2 linked regions of the Homo sapiens genome follow. The protein of the gene in region 1 purifies or fractionates together with the protein of each later gene. This does not show direct contact. Each region holds a gene or a part of one and is shown on either strand. Other genes may lie near its edges.

The links. The genes of interacting proteins can lie anywhere in the genome.
Region 2: the proteins of MGME1 (region 1) and MIPEP purify together in Homo sapiens (co-immunoprecipitation; 3 studies listed by BioGRID and IntAct, with this or other methods). This does not show direct contact.

What each region holds. Positions count from the first base shown.
Region 1 is NC_000020.11:17,972,007-17,979,030, reverse strand, and holds part of MGME1 (mitochondrial genome maintenance exonuclease 1 isoform 2 precursor), read right to left. Parts: intron 6,325-7,024; coding exon of another isoform or gene 6,280-6,324; intron 3,348-6,279; coding exon 3,128-3,347; intron 1-3,127. UniProt on the Homo sapiens protein: Metal-dependent single-stranded DNA (ssDNA) exonuclease involved in mitochondrial genome maintenance. Has preference for 5'-3' exonuclease activity but is also capable of endonuclease activity on linear substrates.
Region 2 is NC_000013.11:23,886,382-23,893,871, forward strand, and holds the start of MIPEP (mitochondrial intermediate peptidase), read right to left. Parts: upstream 3,020-7,490; 5' UTR 2,940-3,019; coding exon 2,751-2,939; exon of another isoform or gene 2,300-2,750; coding exon of another isoform or gene 2,297-2,299; intron 126-2,296; coding exon 1-125. Other genes in the region: C1QTNF9B (complement C1q and tumor necrosis factor-related protein 9B precursor), read right to left, coding at 4,908-5,680. UniProt on the Homo sapiens protein: Cleaves proteins, imported into the mitochondrion, to their mature size.

The DNA of each region.
Region 1 (7,024 bases):
TGAGGCGGGCAGATCACTCAAGGCCCGGAGCTCGAGACCAGCCTGGGCAACATGTCCAAACCCCATCTCTACTAAAAACACAAAAAATTAGCCAGGCGTGGTGGTGGGTGCCTGTAGTCCTAGCCACTTGGGGAGGCTGACACAGGAGAATTGCTTGAACCCAGGAGGCAGAGGTTGCAGTGAACTGAGATTGGGCCACCACACTCCAGTCTGGGTGACAGAGCAAGACTCTGTCTCAAAAACAAAAACAAAAACAACAAAAAAAAACCGTAGTTTCAAAAATGTTCATATTACCAAGGTTGATGTTGACTTAAAAAGCAAAAAACAAACAACAGTGCTATGGACATATTTTATCATCTCTATGACAAGCATTGGGTGTCAGGAACTTCTTGTAGGCCTTGGGTGGAGGTGACTGTATGGCTTCCTTGGTTTATCTAAAAGGCAACCAAAGTCTATTAAATCTCTTGGTATACAGGGCTCTTCTCAGATATGACGCAGTTGTGCTATAAAACCATTAGGTGGTCTAGGCCAGGCGCGGTGGCTCACGTCTGTAATCTCAGCACTTTGGGAGGCTGAGGTGGGTGGATCACCTGAGGTCAGGAGTTCGAGACCAGCCTGGCCAACATGGCGAAACCCCATCTCTACTAATAACACAAAAATTAGCCGGGTGTGGTGGCGTGCACCTCTAATCCCAGCTACTTGGGAGGCTGAGGCAGGAGAATCGCTTGAACCCAGGAGGCAGAGGTTACAGTGAGCCAAGATCACGCCATTGCACTCCAACCTGGGCAACAAGAGTGAAACTCCGTCTCAAAAATAAATAAATAAAAAATAAAACCATTAGGTGGTCTAAACAGTTTTCAGACTATCAAGGGTGCCCACTCTTTCGGCTTCCTGGCCCACATTGGAAGAATTGTCTTGGGCCACACAATAGCTGATGAACTAAAAATAAATAAATAAATAACCAAAAAAAAATCTCATAATGTTTTAAGAAAGTTTACGAATTTGTATTGGGCTGTGGAATAGACAAGCTTTTAAACTTAAATTTTAACTAGAGCTTCAAGGTTTACATGAACGGATTTTTCTATCTTGTTCTTAGTGATCGCTTGCCTTATTTGGATTAGGGGTACCTGCAGGTTGTAGCCACCTTTGTATCAGAGGCGTTCGAACGAGAGCAACTCCATCTTGAGTGAGGGCTAGGAAAGTGAGGCTGGGCCTTGCTGGGCTGCATTCCCAGAAAGTCAGGCATTCATAGCCTCTAGATGTTTAAGGTTAAGGGAACAAATTAATAATGTTTACTAAACAGACCCAGACTTGGGAGTGTCCAGATACCCTGATATCTGGAGAACGAAGGCATTCCTAATTTTGCTTTAAAGATAGTATCGATTCTTGCAAAATATAATAATTAAGAAAATTAATCCTTTATCACAAACCCTTGCAGTAGAGCACATCTCCCCAAGATCTCTTTTTTTATCTTATATATATGAGCACTGTACTTAGGGTGGAAGTGTTCCTCCTCTTACTTTCAGGAACGCCCTGCTCTGTCTATGGAGTAGCTATACTTCCACTACTTTACTTTATTAATAAACCTGCTTTTACTTTGCACTGCAGACTCATCCTGAATGCTTTTTCTTTTCTTTCTTTTATTTTTTTTTTTTTGAGACAGAGTCTCACCTGTTGCTCAGGCTGGAGTGCAGTGGCACCATCTCGGTTCACTGCAACTTCTGCCTCCCGGGTTAAAGTGATTCTCCTGCCTCAGACTCCCGAGTAGCTGGGACTATAGGCACACACCACTGCGCCTGGCTAATTTTTGTATTTTTAGTAGAGACGGAGTTTTGCCATGTTGGCTAGGCTGGTCTTGAACTCCTGACCTCAGGTGATCTGCCCACCTCGGCCTCCCAAAGTGCTGGGATTACAGGCGTGAGCCACTGTGCCTGCCTTCAACCTAAATTCTTTCTTGCCCGAGATCGAAGAACCCTCTCGGGGTCTGGATCAGGACCCCTTTCCTGTAACACTTGGACTCTGAAGTACCTGAGTAAAACAGTAAGACAGCTACGATATAAAAACCATGGGGACCGGGCGTGGTGGCTCATGCCTACAATCCTAGCACTTTGGGAGGCTGAGGCAGGCGGATCACCTGAGGTCCGAAGTTCGAGACCAGCCTGACCAACATGGAGAAACCCCATCTCTACTAAAAATACAAAATCAGCCACACATGGTGGCGCATGCCTGTAATCCCAGCTACTTGGGAGGCTGAGGCAAGATAATAGCTTGAACCTAGGAGATGGAGGTTGCAGTGAGCTGAAATCGCACCACTGCACTCCAGCCTGGGCAACAAGAGCAAAACTCCGTCTCAAAAAACAAAACGAAACAAAACAAAACAAAACAACCATGGGAAGCTTTAGTAAGTTCAGATCTCTGATCCATGTCAAGCACTGCCTGGAAGCCAGGAAGAGTTGATTTTCAGAACCAACAGATCATGGTGCTATCTTTAGAAAAACAGGAAAGAAAACGCAGGAATGAAATTGGATCTTATGGCAGGTACCTTGCTTTGGGGGAGGGGAAGGACAGGCTGGCAAACAGGCCATGTTAGGGAGATTGAAAAATCTCGGCCAGGTGCAGTGGCTCACGCCTGTAATCCCAGCACTTTGGGAAACCAAGGTGGATGGATCACTTGAGGTCGGGAGTTTGAGACCAGCCTGGCCAACATGGTGAAACCCTGTCTCTACTAAAAATACAAAAATTAGCCAGGTGCGGTGGTGCATGCCTGTAGTCCCAGCTACTCAGGAGGCTGAGGCAGGAGAACCGCTTGAACCTGGGAGACGGAGGTTGCAGTGAGCCAAGATTGCACCACTGCACTCCAGCTTGGGTGACACTCCGTCTCAAAACAAAACAAACAAACAAAGAATATACCTTTCTCCAGCAAACAATTTGATTTTGGAGTACTGGATGACAAAGGTTACGTGGCTCTTCTCCTTGTACCTGTTCTCAACCCCGCCCCACCCAATTCTTTTACCTAGCACAAAGGTCTGGACATTAAACAGACAGAGGCTACAGTACCTACAGGCACACCTTTGACAGGCACCATCTGTCCTACGCTGTATTAATTCACCTCCAATCTCATACTTACTGATACTCAGCCACACAGTCCAGCAGACCTATATAGTTTAAGGTTTCATGTTGAACAGCACTTTCAAGAGCTCGCACTCCACTGACATCTTTCAGAATATGCTGGACACTTTCAATGTAACCAGACTTGAGGAGATTTTCATCTCTCTCTTTTAAGGTTTCCTGGGGTGAAAGTATGCTTTCCAAGGCTTCGTGGAACCGTTTCCCTTGTAAAAAGACGTCTGAAAAGAAAATCAGGGAAAAGGGGAGGGGGGAAACACAAACAAAGCTAACACTGAAAAACAAATACTCTAAAACGCCCTGAAACAATACAATTAAAAATGACATTTTTTTTTCTTTTTTTTTTTTTTGGATGGAGTCTCCCTCTGTCGCCCAGGCTGGAGTGTAGTGGGCGATATTGGCTCACTGCAACCTCTGCCTCCTGGGGTCAAGTGATTCTCCTGCCTCAGCCTCCTGAGTAGCTGGGATTACAGGCGCCCGCCACCGTGCCTGGCTAATTTTTCTACTTTTAGTAGAGATGGGGTTTCACCATATTGGTGAGGCTGGTCTCGAACTCCTGACCTCGTGATCTGCCAGCCTTGGCCTCCCAAAGTGCTGAGACTACAGGCATGAGCCACCGTGCCCGGCCAAAAATTACATTAGTTATTTTTAAGTGACAACCCCTAAGACCAAATTTCAGCCTCTTGTGAAACCTAAGAATATACTTTGAAACCAACGGGATTATTAATAGGACGTTAGGTAATAAAATGAATTAAAATTAAGTACTTCTAGGAGAATTGGGCCAAAGTCAAAACTGAAGATCTGGCGGCTACAAGACCACATCCAGTTTATGGTACTATGTGTTTAAGTATCCAATGTAATAAGTTAACTGGCTGTGATAAAATAAAAAAAAATTAGAAATCTAGGGAACTGTGCTTCTGTTTGTAGTTCTTTTTAGACCAAAACTTAATTATGAACATAGGTGGGGGAATCCTTTTACTAACAGGATTAGTGACAAACAAGGAATGGAAAATAAGGCATGCGCAAATGAAAAGTTATGAATTTGATATTATGGAATCTGGAGGGGGAGGAAGAGGAAAATATGTGACATTCTTCTCCTGTATTTTTTTTTTAGTGCTGGAACAGCCTGAAAAATTCAGCTGTGTCTCAATTTTTTTCCCTCATACATTTTTCTATTCTAATATTTAATATTTAACATGTAATATTTTTCTAATTAGCTTTAGATTATTAGAATTCTGATTTATGGCTTGTAGGAGGACACATCTTCTTTCTTCCTAACATTTTATAACATGTGAATACTAGAGAAATTTCATTAGGACACATTAGGACACATTATTTTTCCTGTATGTTCATTTTCTGAGGTCAAAGCCTTACTTTTCGTCCCCAGGTTTCTCCGAAAGAACTGTAGTGTCTGGATTTGTTGGCGTATCCCAGGATCTAACTTGATTTTTGAACTCTCTCCTCATTTTCAGTGCTCGTTGGCCTCCAAGCGCTTGCATAGTAAGCCCCCTCCTCATACACATTTTAAAAAAGGGAACATGGCCGGGCATGGTGGCTTATGCCTATAATCCCAGCACTTTGGGCAGCCAAGGCAGGCGGATTACCTGAGGTCAGGAGTTCAAGACCAGCCTGGCCAACATGGTAAAACCCAGTCTCTACTCAAAATACAAAAATTAGCCAGGTGTGGTGGCGCATGCCTGTAATTCCAGCTACTCTGGAGGCTGAGGCAGGAGAATTGCTTGAACCCAGGAGGCAGAGGTTGCAGTGAGCCAAGATCATGCCACTGCACTCCAGCCTGGGTGACAGAGCAAGACAATCTCAAAAAAAAAAAAAAAAAAAAAAACACACAAAGAGACTCAACAAACACAAGAAATATATTCACTTGTTTCTTAGTAAGAGGAGAGAAAGAGGGGGGACTGTTATGCTAAGCAATGGCCTTGGAGCTTTCAAAACATTATTTAATTTTCAAACCCAACAACCCAGCAAAATAGGGATTGTAAGTTACCCCCATTTTAATGAATGAGGCCCTATCCCACCAGGCAGTGCTGTTAATTTGCCCCAAAGCAAAAAGCTGGACAGGCAGCCTGGCACCAGAATCTGTTTCCAATCTACCACACAGTAGAGCAAAGGAAGCAATCTTGGAAATCACCAATTAGATACTCAGAGAAACAGAGCAGGAAATACACGTGCTTGGAACATGCTTGCAGAGAGACCCACAGAAAAGGCGGAAAACAACTTTACATTTGTCAAGTTTTTTTTTTTTTGAGACAGGGTCTTACTTGTCACCCAGGATGGAGTGTACTGGCTCGATCATTGCTCACTGTAACCTTGAACACCTGGCCTTAAGCAATCCTCCTGTCTCAGCTTCCTCTACAGGCATGTGCCACCACGCCTGGCTAATTCAAAAAAATTTTTTTTTTGTAGAGATGCAATCTCTCTACGTTGCCTAGGCTGGTCTTAAACACCTGGCCTCAAGCAATCGTCCCACCTTGGTCTCCCAGAGTGCTGGGATTACAGGCATGAGCCACTGCACTCGGCCTTCAACTATTTTTTACAAAGATGGAAATGTCAATTCTTTTTTTTTCCAGGCTGGAGTGCAGTGGTATGATCTCGGCTCACTGCAATCTCCACCTCCCAGGTTCAAGCGATTCTCCTGCCTCAGCCTCCGTAGTAGCTGGGATTACAAGTGATCGCTGCGCCCGGCTAATTTTTTTGTATTTTTAGTAGAGATGGGGTTTCGCCATTTTGGCCAGGCTGGTTTTGAACTCCTGACCTCAAGTGATCCGCCTGCTTCGGCCTCCCAAAGTGCTAGGATTACAGGCATGAGCCACTATGCCCAGCTGGAAATGTCAATTCTATCATTAGCAAAAAATGGAATCCCTTCTGAAAAATTATTTGGAGAGTTAAATGAAATTCAACTTAGGAACTAAGTTATTCTACTCCAAATTTACTTGACTCAATTGGAATTATTAACACGTGAAAGACCTACAAGAAATTTATGACTGATGGAATTAAAGCCTAGGAAAAAGAAGTGTATAGCATTCATCTACACACTAGGTTAATGAAGCAGAAGACAAACATGTTAAAAACAGGAAGAAAAAAACTTAGCAAATGCCATGCCAATAGACCATACATTTCTCGCTGCAAACTTACCCCTGGCTAGGTTCTTCATATACACATGATCACAAACATGAAAACCTAGATTACAGGATCCTTTAGACACTAAGGCTCAGAACATTCAACATGATTCAATTTATAAAAATAAAAAATGATCCAAGAATATTCACTGCATGTAGCATCAAGTCTGCTTATTCACTCAAAGTAATGAAAGTGAAATGTTTTCAAGTCCTCGTATATGAAGTGCACTAAAAAAAACCTTCATGCATCTCCAGTATTCTCATGATGGAACTGGCAGGATGGCTAATACTTCAGGATTAAATCAGCGTAGCAAAAAAAAAAAAAAAAAAATTAAAACCTAAACCCCATCCCTTTGTGTGTATTTATACACAAAATATAAATCAGAATAAGTCAGACTTTCTCATTCCCACCAGTCTTCAAAAGATGAACTGATGCTTGGGAAACTGCTCAAGTATTTGGAAGAATGCCAGACACATTTCTATGCTCTCACCTTTGAGAAGACTGGGTAGAAATTACTGATCCAATATTTTTCATTAAAAAAATCTTCTTAATTTTTAAAATGTAATTCTTCTTGGGTGCCACCTTCTTGGGTTTGGGATCCAGTATCCTCCAGACCCGTTAATCAATTTAGTGAGCCCTTTTTCTTTTATTCACCATGACACTAATTGTCCCTTTATTTATTTCAGAACCCACTGCTTACTAATACTTATTTTCTAAAAAGAGTGATTCTGCCTGGGCACAGTGGGTCACACCTGTAGTC
Region 2 (7,490 bases), on another chromosome or scaffold:
ACGGTCTGGGGCCCAGGTGGGGTGGAACATGCACGGTCCACAAGCAATTCTGTCTTTCTCAAGGCTTTTTCTTGTGCAATATGAAATCCTTCTGGGGCACTCAGCTCAGGAACTCCAAAAAGACCCTTAGAACCAAAGAATACGTCTGATTTATAACCAAAATTCAAAATTGTGCTTTTTTTATATTTACTAAAATTACTTTTATCACAAAGGAGATCTTGACTTTCATTGGTGTATCATGTTATACCTGTGATCACAGATACCACTATCATACTCCCCATATCACTCCACATAAATTACACTAAAAATGTTTTCAGAACATAATTTTTCTTCAATTTTTAATTATTTTCCGGAAAAAACAACAACAACAATGGTATGGGTTCAAAATCCAGCTGTCACTTCTACAGAACCTAAGAGTGGCCGCAAAGATTAAATGAGATCATATATGTAAATATATATATATATATACATAAAGCAGTGTTTGGCACAGAGCATTTATAGATGTTAGCCATAATTATTATTAGCTTATAACCCTGGTCATGTTATTTCTCCTCCTAGGAGAAATATTTTTTTCATCATGTACAATGGGAATGACGATACATACCTTACAGCATGGATACAGGTAATAAGTATATGTAAAGTACTAACAGCAGCAGCTGACAAGGTGAGATCTCAGTACATAGTACCAATTATTCTATAACTATCAAATAGGGAGGATGAGTTGACTATGAAGCAATAGATATTTTAGAAAAATGTAATGAACATATTAAAATCATAGGCTGAAACTGGGAGCAAATTTTATACGTTACAAAGACATTTCAATATCTTGATAAAAACAAAAATCACTGATCTAATGGTAATGACCATTCTCTTGTTACCTATTCAATCACACTTGTTAGCACACTCAGGAAGGCAGGGGGAAAAAGCATTTAATATGCACCTACTGCATACCATGAAGTGTGCCTGCTACTTTACATAGGTTCTCATTTAAATCACACAATCCTACAGAACAGAGTATCATTCTTTTACAGATCAGGCCACATGCTTTAAGACGTTAGAAAAAACTTGTTTGAGGTCACAAATTAATATTGGGAAAGACAGAACTCGAACCCGCTCTGTACATCTGTAAAGCCCACACTTTTCCATACTTCTCTATTACAATTTATCTGTTTGAAAGTCTTCTCTCCTGAAAAGGTGAGCTTCCAGACCCAAGAGCCCTGCCCTTCATTTCTTTAACCAGCTATCCAATAGAATGTCTAACACATGGGGGAACTCAATGAAAGAAACAAGTGACCGGAGCAGATGCTAGGCTTTGTTAATTCACTTTGTAGGTGCTTAACGCATAGATTTTCAGAAATACGAACAGGTAAACCTTCAGGCCTGACAAGCCCTACTGTTTCTACAAGAAGGGATGGATGAAGTTAAGCTAGTAATCTCTCTTCAAAATATATTACAAGATAAAAAATAAAATAAAAGAAAGTCAGTGGGAGACAAAGGAAAATCAGGACCAAAAACAAATGTCATCTTTATACTGATTTAATTTGATTCAAGCACAGACTACTTCCACTTCCCAGTACAACCTGCCCATATTGCTCTCGGGAATTCTAACTATCGGATTACCAGTGACCATAATGCTAAAAAACTGAATAAGGCTTTTTTTTTTTCAAGGCAAAAATCAATTCTAAAATTTGAAAATCTGCTATCAGTGCCGAATATCATGATACAAAAAGGGAAAAATAAAAGCTAAAATTAGTTATATCTCATCCACCCAAAATCAGGCTTCCCCTCACGTCTTTCTGCTCAGCGCCTACAAGTAGGTCTCTTCACACCAACTATGTTAATACCAACACTACATACCCTTAAGGAAGGTGGTGTAGCAAATTTCACACAAAATAATTTTTAAATAGACAAAACTGATAATGGAGATAAAACAAGAATCACACACTTTAGCTCAGTGCAACAATACCCTAGACTTGTCTTTATAAGGCAATACAGTATAACGAAATTTTAAAAGGCAAAAATAAAAGTAATCCTTAACCTAAAACGGACAAAATGTACAAACTCCAAGTAGAACAGGCATCAGGTAAGTCCTTTCCAACCTTGCCTTCCTCTCACCTTTCACTAGACAACGCAGGCTAGTGACTTCCTGGGGTAAGAAATCAAAGTGACCAATTCCATGGCACTATGGGAAGTGAGACTCGTCTCAACAGAGTTTTGTGTTTTAAAACAAGAAAGCCCAAAGCTTTGAAATAAATTAATTAATAGATGATGGAATTTCAGGTATTAATGAAATTACCATTACTCGACTGCAGGCAGCCGTGTCCTTGCAAAAAGACCATGTGATGCCGCCTGTGAACGCACAGGGATAGGCCTCTTAAGGCAGGACTGTAGCGCTGGAGCTAAAGGGCTTTAGCAGGGGTGCGCCTGAGTGTATGCAGAGGGCGGGTCCTGGCAGGACGAATTCACCGCCACTGCCAGAACGAACTATTCAGATTCACGTGGAGCAAGGGGCTCATGCAGAAGCAGTTCCCGGACCCGACACTCTGGGTAGGAGACCACTAAACCCGGCCCCTCAAAGCAGAGGTGACCTTGCCCTCATCGAGAGCGCACACAAGACGCCACTGTAAAAGGTGGGTTCGCTGCTCGCCTCCTCCCAGGCCCAAACAATCTCGCCCTGATTGTTGCTGGCCGCGCGGAGCAGGGGTCGGCTTAGCTCGGGGACTGAGGGGAGCTCCTCCTGCGCCGCTCACCCGGCGCTCGCCGAACAGGTCCAAGCGGCTGCCCTGGGGCTTGACATTGAAGGCGGCGCCCACGGGAGACCAGCTGGTGCTGACCCTTCGGGCCCGGATCCCGGCTTCGAGGCTTCCCCGGCCCGCCCGGCGGGGCGGCAGAGCTGCTGCTCTGGCTCCCAAGCCGCCCAGCCTTCCGACGCACAGCATTCTAGCACCAGAGCAGTCCCTTCCTCCAACGCAGATCCCTGCCCTGCTGCTTTCGCTGGGAGCGCGCGCTCCGCGTTTCCAAGGCAGCAGCCCACGCCGCCCCACGTGACGGCCCCGCTTCCGGGTCTGGGCGCGGCCTCAGGACGTGGGCACGTTGTCGTCCAGAGAGCAAGAGCGTCGCTCCCCCTCGCCTTCTCGGCCGCCCTCCCGGTTTACCGCCCCCTGTGTCCAGAGTAAGAAAAGGCTAGGGTTGCGCTTCCCTCCCAAGTTGACTAGGGGTGGGCGCGAGTAAAATCATGACATATTCGAATTCCAGTGGACATTAGATATTCTTTGAGAGACGGCAGGTACTTGAGTAAACAAGAAATGCCCACCATAGGCCTGAAGGAGAAGTTTCCCTTTTAACCTACTCTCTTGGTAAATTTATCCTGCACTTCTCTGTTTGGTGTCTCTGTCCGGTAACTTTTTACTCTTGCATAGCTCAGTTAAAAATTTTAGATGGGAAATAGTGAAAGAAGTCTAATGGGATTTTCCCTCCAGGGTTTCAGAATTGCCTGGGACCCGTGAACCCTTTTTTCCTTCCCCTTTCTCTCTTTTGGAATGGATTGTCTACCCTATGCCTGTCTCCCCCTCCAACCCCCGGTCTTTTAGAAGTGGATTAACTCGTCTCGCTTCACAGGATCACAGATGGAGAGACATTTTGCCACACGATGAATCACACAGTAAGTCTCCTCTGTAGCTTATTTAAATGATGTAGATGGTGAGAGGAGTTGATGCGGAAAGTGTTAAGACTTTTGGTAATGTTGACATGGTGCGAAAATGTATTTTGCACATGAGAAGGAAATCAATTTTGGGAACCAGAGGGCAGATTGGGTTGAACTGTGTCTCCCAAAATAGATGCTGAAGTCCTAACCCTCGGTGCCTGTACATGTGACCTTATTTGAAAATATGGAGTTTGCAATTATGATTAAGATGGGTCATACTAGATTAGGGAAGCTGTTCTTGTAAGAAGAGGAAAATTTGGCTGATACAGGAGGAGGACAGCCACCTGAAGATGGAGGCGGGGACTGGAGTGATGCTGCCACCAGCTGCCAGAAGCTGGAAGCAGCAAGGCTGCATCCTCCTGTATCCCCTTTGGAGGGAGGATGGCCCTGCTGCTACGGTGATCTCAAACTTCCAGCCTACAGAACTGTGAGAAAGTCCGTTTCTGTTGTTTAAAGACTCCCAGTTTGTGTACTTTATTAGGGCGATCCTAGAAAACAAGTAGAGATTCATGTCTGGCAAATAATGATCAAACAATGATTTGTTGGATAGAATGGTGATTAAAACCTAGGTTAGAAAATGAGCAAAATGGGAGGGAAAGCACCAGGACAAATAGCTAATGCATGCAGGGCTTAATACCTGCATAGGTGATGGGTTGACAGATGCAGCAAACCACCACAGCACATTTTTATGTAACAAACCTGCACGTTCTGCATATGTATTCCAGAACTTAAAAATACATTTTTTAAAAAAAGACAAAATGAGCAGTGTCTACAGCTTTCTGGAGTGTGACAGCATCACCAGCTTAAAGCTGTTACTAGTACTAAATGGAATAAACATTTCCCTCTAATTTCCCCTTAATGTCCTCAGAAACACAGATGAGGGATACATCTTCATATGACTCCTCAGAGCACTAAAATGATATCAAAACACTCTTCCCACAAGAAATGCACAGACAAAGGATTCTTCAGATAATAGGAATAAGAAATGTGAAATAAATTAGAATAAACCATGCAGCTATTTTAAATATTTACTCCTGGAAAAATAGTAAGTTACATAGAATCAGTTTTGGGAATAACTTTTCCGTTTTCACCTTTTTATGATTATTGTAATAATTGGAGGAATTAATAAAGTAAAACCATCTGAATAAGTTCATCCCAAGCTGATTCTGATGGATGGTCTGGCAGATTTATAAACTCTCCTCTGTCACTGGCTGCTGAACAGAAGGAACCCTGTGAAAGTTGTGTCATCGTCCTCATCAGCAAACAAGCCATTGAACCTCTCTCCTCCTGTCACCTGCAGCCACATCTCATCCCCGAGCTTCAGCTGCAGGACAATGCTGCCAGAGGCCTGGTCCTCAGAGCTCACGTAAGCATCTCTGGTGTGCAGTATTTTTACTCCGTTTTTGACCAAAGACACCTGAACATTCCTGGAGAAAACAGTGATGTGGTAGGTGAAGTAATAGACCCCAGCAATGTGGCACGTGAATTTCCCCACTGCTGTATCATAATGGTTGAATTCATTATACAGGATCTTATCAAATTTAATGGGCACATCTGAAGAAGGAAACTTGCTCAGCACCGTGAGCCCCACAGTGAAAGCACTTTTTGGCAAGACTAGAGTCTCACCGATTTTCCCTTTCTCTCCTCGATCTCCTTTCCAGCCTCTTATTCCCCGGACTCCTGGCTCACCCTGGGGCCCCGTGGGTCCAGCTTCTCCCTTGGGACCAGGCTTTCCAATAGGGCCCATGGGGCCCGGTAAACCAGTTGGGCCCAAAGGCCCAATGTTGCCCCTTGGCCCCTCAGGACCAGTGGGACCCACGTCACCCTTATTCCCCTTCTGCCCCTGAGGCCCAGTCTCTCCTCGGAGGCCTTTCTCTCCCATGGGCCCTGCAAGCCCCTTGGGGCCATGTTTTCCTGGGGATCCTCTTGAGCCTTGATCACCTTTGATGCCTTTTGCTTCAACTTTTCCATCTGCTCCTAAATAGAGAAAGAGCAAATAAAGAGATAGTTTGTGAAAGATTCCCTTGTGAACAACTTTGGTTTTTCTATAATTGAGCTCACAAATGAAACAAAGTAGTACACAGGTTCAGTATATGCCCAGAGTTTAAAATTCAATTACTCCATCTGGGTGCGGTGGCTCACACCTGTAATCCTAGCACCTTGGGAGACCGCGGCAGGAGGACTGCCTGAGGCCAAGAGTTCAAGACCATCCCGGCCAACATAGCAATTCCCTGACTCTAAAAAAATAAAAATAATAAAAAAATAAGAAAATAAAATTCAATTACTCCAGCCCAGCTCAGTGGCTTATGCCTGTAATCCTAGCACTTTGGGAGGCCAAGAGAGGCAGACTACTTGAGTCCAGGAATTCAAGATCAGGCTAGGCAACATGGCAAAACCTCATCTCTGCAAAAAGTACAAAAATTAACCAGGTGCGGTGGCACACAATTGTAGTCCCAGATATTCAGGAGGCTGAGGTGGGAGGATGGCTTGAGCCCAGGAGGCTGAGGCTGCAGTGATCCGTGATCAAACCACTGCACTCCAGCCTGGGCAACAGAGTGAGACCCTGTCTCAAAAAAATAAATAAAAGTCAATTACTCCAATTACACACGTGTGTGCACATGGACACACACACACACATCCCAACACACCTTTTGACTACTGTCTACTAAATTAGTGTCAGGGCTCACATTAGAAATTACAACCCTACCATCTAAGTCTACCATGCTGGCTATTAAATAATGTCAATCCATGACAAAAAGCACTCTGCAGAGCAGAGACAGACAGATTAACTGACACTCAACCCTAGTCGTGACATCCTCTAAAAACCTCCTCCCTGGAGTGAACATAAAATAAAGCCTGCATCGAGGCATTGCCCTCTCCTGCCCAACCCCAGCCCCAACCCACCTATCCCACCGGCAATTCATCATCTACAGAAACCTTGCTGCTTCCTTGCACCCCCACCCATACCAAAGAGCCGTCGTTGCAAGTGTGGACTCTGAGGCTAAGTGCCAGGTTTCCATTCTGTCCCCATATGCACACAGGACGTCAGACGAGCTAGTGAGCCTCGTGCCTCTGTTCCCTCACCTACGGAACTGGGGTGATAAAACTACCTAGTGTCTGGGGATGTTGCATTTGGTGAGTCAGTACATGAAAAGCACAAAGTGAAGATTACACAAGTTTGCCACTACGACTACATCCCAACCCATCAGGGACCAGTTCTAGTGCCACCTCCTCCATGCAGTGCTGCCAGATGCACCAAGTCAAAAACTCAGTCTCACTCCTCAGTGCTCATCCACTGCAAGGTTCAAAGTTCAGCAAACTACAGCCACAGGCCAAATTCAGCCTCCCTCCCGCAAGCAAAACAAACATGGTTGACATTTTTTTTGTTTTTCTGGTTTTTGTTTGTGACAGGGTCACTCACTCTGTTACCCAGGCTGGAGTGCAGTGATGAGATCATGGCTCATGGCAGCCTCAAACTCCCAGGCTCAAGTGATCCTCCCATCTCAGCCTCCTGAGTAGCTGGGACTACAGGCATGTGCCACCATGCCTGGCTAGTTTTTTTATTTGTATAGACAAAGTCTTACTATGTTGCCCAGGGTGGTCTGGAACTCCTAGGTTCAAGCGATTCTCTTACCTGGGCCTCCCAAAGTGTTGGGATTACAGGTGTGAGGCATGGTGCTCGGCCATGGTTTGCATGTTTAAATGGTCACAAATAATATTCCACAATACATGGAAACCATGGGAAATTCCCATTTCAGTCTTCACACATATGGTGTCACTGGAACAG